Linked DNA regions of Homo sapiens: region 2 is linked to region 1. Evidence: fine-mapped expression QTL. Tissue or cell type: whole blood. Region 1 holds a variant in brackets; the other region holds the start of a gene. All regions are shown on one strand. Distances are between the middles of the regions.

What was found. PIP is the estimated chance that this variant, and not a neighbour inherited with it, causes the effect.
Region 2: PARVG starts here. The variant in region 1 is fine-mapped to the expression of PARVG in whole blood (TOPMed, PIP above 0.99).

The regions. Positions count from the first base shown.
Region 1 is chr22:44,249,123-44,251,876 of GRCh38, forward strand. SHISAL1 (shisa like 1) reads right to left here. Exons shown (of 5, transcript NM_001099294.2): 5 at 1-563. The coding sequence ends at 563. Among named protein-coding and RNA genes, the nearest start is that of SHISAL1, 62 kb to the right of the region's middle. The variant A/G (reference allele first, on the strand shown) is at 1,026.
Region 2 is chr22:44,179,636-44,182,135 of GRCh38, forward strand. PARVG (parvin gamma) reads left to right here and starts at 1,290. Exons shown (of 14, transcript NM_022141.7): 1 at 1,290-1,550; 2 at 2,107-2,282. RefSeq lists silencers at 551-600, 1,771-1,900 and enhancers at 1,277-2,007, 2,008-2,500.

The DNA.
Region 1 (2,754 bases):
ACCCCCAGCCGGAGGGTGACTCATGCCCATCAGAGAACTTGAGGGGGGAAGCCCCAATAAAAACCAACCAACCAAGCAAACAAAAAGAACACCCCAAATCACACACACGCACACACACACGCACATTCAATATTCTGACACAAATAGCCCCAAGGGGCCACTACTGGAGGGAGCAGGGGCAAGGGAAGCTTCGGTTTTCAACCACAGGTATAACTCACAGGCCTCAATCCTCCTGGCTGGAATCAGCCAGAGTTGCTTTGTCTTGGTCATCCTGAGTCCACAATGAGTCACCTCTCAGAAGCCACCAGCCCAAAATAGGACTATTGCTTGCGGACAGGTGGCTCAGAATCCCCTCCCCTGCACCCCCAGCCCCTACCCCTGAGTTTGCTCCTAATCTTAGAAGTCCGCGGAAGGGGGCTTTGGGCACAGGCAGCATTTCCTCCTGTGCCACCGCCGCTACCTCGGCTGTCCCTGGCATCTCTGTAGAAGTTGTTCTTCTCGGAGGCTGCACCGGGTGCTTCAGATCTCATCTCCCCCATCCTGAGGCACAGCAAAAGCGTTTTCTGGAGGAAATACAAGGAAAAAAAGTATCACATGGTGTCTCCTCCATGGGGACATTTCTCTCTGGCCTCAGTGCCGGAAGAAGCCAGGTTTTCTCTGAGCATGTGGGTTTTGTCTTCTGAACATTGCGAACCATGTGACTTTAAGACTGGAAGAAAGAAAAAAAATGTCTGCTATCATTATAGCTCCATATAGTACTAGAGCTCTGGCCCATGCAATAAGACAAGAAAAATAAGCATAGAATAGGACTGGAATAGAAGAACCAAAATTACAGTTAATTGTGGATAACTTACATAGAAAATTTAACAGAATCAACAGGTTAATTAGTAGAATGGAGAGTGCAGACATAGACGTATAATAGTCAACCTATAAGACATCAGATCAATTTATAAAATGCAACAGTGTGCACTGACCTCAGCAATTACTAGGGTAATTATATGTCATGGCTTGGGACAGTCTCAGTT[A/G]ACACTTGTTCTGACATAATTTTTAATGTTGTTCCCCTTTTATCCTCAAAAGTATTCTGATTTGGCTGATAAATTATATGGTCACCATTGCCATAACAAACTAAATATTAAACACAGATACAGATACCATTCATATTGACAAAAACCATTATGTATTTTGGAATGGCACTAATATATGACCATGTCATACAAAGCTATAAAGAAGAGACCAAGGTGCTCCTGGAATAGGGAAAAGCCAGGAGACCAGTGGAACAAGATCTACAGTGTGGAAACAGATCTGCGGGGCACTTACTTATAGCTTTGATTGGCAGAGTCAAGTTGCAAACAAGACAATGAGGAAAAGAAATACAGACTCCATCTGTGGAAAGCAGCATGAACCCCACTGCCCTGTGTCTATTATAAGAGCAATTGCCCAGTCACAAATACTTACCTTCCCCGACTCCCTTGCAAGCAGGGGTGGTCACATGACCCAGTCTGGCTAACGCTGTGTAAGTGGGAGTCTATTGGGAAGGGGACATGAATCCAGGGGGAAATGAACTATCTTGCATGCATGAGAATGAAAGACGCTCACTAACACAGGTGGAGTAGAAAGCAGGCAGAAACTTGGTTCTGGTGGCAGCCCTGAACTACCCCCTTCATACCATTGCAGTTGAATTTCTTTTACTTGCGTAAATTGCATCTGGTGAGTGTTCTTAAATGATAAACCATCTTCAACTAAATGGAGAAGTCAAGGGAGTGGCTCCGACCAAGCCAGCAAAGCCCACCTCCCCAGAGTGAGTGATACGCCAAGAGGCAGAACCTACTCTCCACCCTTTGCATTAGTGGGAATGTGTACAGGGGCTAAGGGTGAGAGATTCTGTGGGGCCATCTCCTCTGCTTCATAGAACTAAGCCAGGTCCAGGTACTCTCCATCACCCACTTTGTTTTTCTCCATAGCACACACCTCCATCCAGCATACCACCTATTGTACTTACTTGAATAGTTTATTGTTTGTCTTCCCCAAATAGAAAGTTAGCTAAAAGAGGGTTAAGGTGATTGTGTGTTTTACACATCGCTGCATTGCCAGGGCCTAGAACAGTAACTGGCATACTGTAGGGGCTTAATAAATATTTGTCAAATGAATGAATAAACCAAGAATTTAAAGCCCAATGAACCATCTGTCAAGAATAAAGTCAACAGAAAAACATGTTGAACAGATTTTTGAATTAAAGTTCCCATGACCCCTTCTTAAAAAAATTATTAAGGATACGCTTAGGCAAATCAAGAATGATTCAGAAAGGTTTACTATAAAAGGATGGGCAGATGATTTTTTAAAAGTTCTGTGGATGGATGGCAGTGATGGCTGCTGTATTAGTCCATTTTCACGCTGCTAATAGACATACCCAAGGCTGGGCAACTTACAAAAGAGGTTTAATTGGACTTACAGTTCCACATGTCTGGGGAGGCCTCACAATCATGGCAAAAGGCAAGGAGGAGCAAGTCACATCTTATGTGGATGGTGGCAGGCAAAGAGAGCGAGCAAGCTTGTGCAGGAAAATTCCCATTTGTAAAGCCATCAGATTCGGTGAGATTCATTCACCATGAGAACAGCATGGGAAAGACCTGCCCCCATGATTCAATTACCTCCCACCAGGTTCCTCCCATGCCACATGGAAATTGTGGGAGTTACAATTCAAGATGAGATTTGGGTGGGGACACAGCCAAACCATATCAGTTGCCTTACAGTGAG
Region 2 (2,500 bases), 70 kb before region 1:
TTCTCTAACAGTTACTAGGTCCCCACTGCCTTTAAATCAACCAGAACAAGTAACCAATCCCAGTTCCCATCCTGGAGGTCGTGTTGCCTGCAATTGTTTCTGGTAACAAATCCGAAGTTAATTGGGATTCAGTTGCCGATGATTAGAGTCTCTTCAGTTGTTTGGAGGAGAAAGGAATCTAACATAGGAAGCTGTGTGATTCTCAAGCTGTTGGAAGGCTGGAGGCAGCGCCTCCAGCAAGGACTCTTGGAAGAATACTGCAGAGCTGGCTCCTGAAGGAAGCTGCCGAGTCAGGCTGGCCCTAGAAGCATGCTTTCTGGGTTGAATGCTTTAGGTTCACCTCTGCAGATCCACTCCCCACCATTTTCTCTCCTCACATCTATGGGCCGCAGCAGGGGACTTCTTTTCTCTGGCTTCTGGCTGGATGTGGGCAGGGGAGGCCCTGGCAGGAGGGAGGAGAGTGAGGCTTGGTCATTGATTCCTCCAGCTGTGCCCTTCTGCTGGTTCACCATGAGCTGGCTGTGTCCCTCTACCAAAGGCCACAGCTCCTATCCCGAGGCCCCTCTTAGAGCTTCAGTGATTCTGTTCCTGGGCTCTGCCACCCACTCCCTCCTTCACCCTCTAGGTTTTGAAGAAGTAACAGCTCCCCATGTTGCTAGCCTGGGGTGTAGCACTGTCTCTTCTGGGTTCCTTTAACCCTGCCCCAGCTGTCCCTTTATTAAACAGTCTTCAGTTAGCACATGGGAATATACCGTCTCTTTGCTGCTGGGACTGTGACTGCTGCTACATCTATGTGGCTGTGATCCAGAGTCAGAAGCCACCACCAGAACCACTGTGTCCAGAGCTGGGCTGAGCCTGCTACACACGCCCCAGCAAAATAGGTCCTGCACGGTGGCTTCTCTCCCCACCTGTTACAAGCCCCAGTCTAGCACGGGCACTTCAGAATGGCAGGGACTGACTCATGTGCCTCAGTGTCTTCCTCTGTAATATGGGGGTGATGATTGTACCTACCTCACAAGGAAGTTTCCAGTAAAATGAAAGCCCTTAAAATTATGTTTGTTTCATCACCAATGACTCCATAAATATTAGCAACAATACCAGTACTAAGTTTTGTCATTTTTTATTAACTTCTTGTAAACGACCCTACTTTCCTGCTCTCACACACTCCTTACACCTGCATCCCACCTGATTTAGCCACTTTCTGCCTAACCTGTCAGAAAGGGTAGATAGCTTCCCAGTCACCTGTTGCTAGGGAAACTCACCATTTCAGCCCGGATGGTGAAGATTCCAGCTTGAGAGACCAGCTCGGGTCTGAAGTGTTTCTCTATCTACTGTGCTGAGATCTCTCCTTCTCGAACCCTGCTATGCCTTTGCATACGCTGTTTTCTCCACCTGCCACGTTCTCACCCCTTCTTCTTCCACTGCAAACTCCTATGCAGCCGTCAAGGCCCCATTCTCCTCTGGAAAGCCTTCCCGATCCCCTTGGCAACAACCACCACCAATATTTATTCACTGAGCCCACTTTGTGCCAAGCATTGTTCTAGACACGGGTATGTAACCGCGATTGAGAGAGACAGACCACGCACAGCCTGGATTTTATTTTAAGAGCTATTGGGTGCCGTTGGTGGGTTTGAGTGAGTGGGGTCAGGAAGTGACTCACTCCTCCGAGGGCTTGTGGGAGCCTCAGCTCAGGGGCGGGCAGGGGGCGTGGGGAAGTCTGCAGCCGAGAGTCCAGGTAGGAGTCTCCTGCGTGGTCCCGGGAGAGGAAGGGGCCTGGCCCGGGGCGGGGTGTGGAGGTGGGAGGACGGCGGTGCGGGATGGAGGGTGGAGGCCAGGCTGACAGGGTGCTGGTGGTGGGTTGCGGGGGTCGACCCCAGGCTCTGGCCTATGTAGCTGCCATTTTGGAGGTGAACAGCCTGCGGGGAAACTGGCATGGTTTGGGGAAGGCGGGGAGAGGGGGAGAAATGAAAGCATTGAGTTTAAGTGGCCTGCAGAACCCCGGGGGCCCAGGCGGCACGGCGGGCGCTGGGGCTCCGGGCAGAGCTTTCTGGAGGTTTGTGGCAGCTTCACTTTCACGGCATCCACCCCCCTCGGGCCCTGCCGCAGAGAGGAGGAAGCTCCTGCCGGCTGAGCGGGCCTGGAGGAAGTGAGCAGCGGGGCTCCTGCCTCCCGGCCTGGTCCCCGAAGACCCCAGAAGAACCCGGAACTTGCTTCCATTCGGAATCCAGGGACCACCCTTTGCACTCAGTAGGCCTTTGTTTTCCTGCGTGGAAAGCGGTTGGGTGAGTTCTGGCATCGGGGCCACCATACTTGAGTGTTGGGGGTCACGGAGGGAGGGGCCCAGACACCACCTGGGAAGGATCCCAGAGTGCAGTCCCAGCCCAGGCCACCCGGGGAAGGGAGTCGGTAAAGTGGGACCTTGAGTCCCCACGGCCCCTCCGGCTGCCCCTGCTCAGAGGCTGCTCGGCGTCCTCCCTCCCTGTTCTACTGAGGAGTTGCC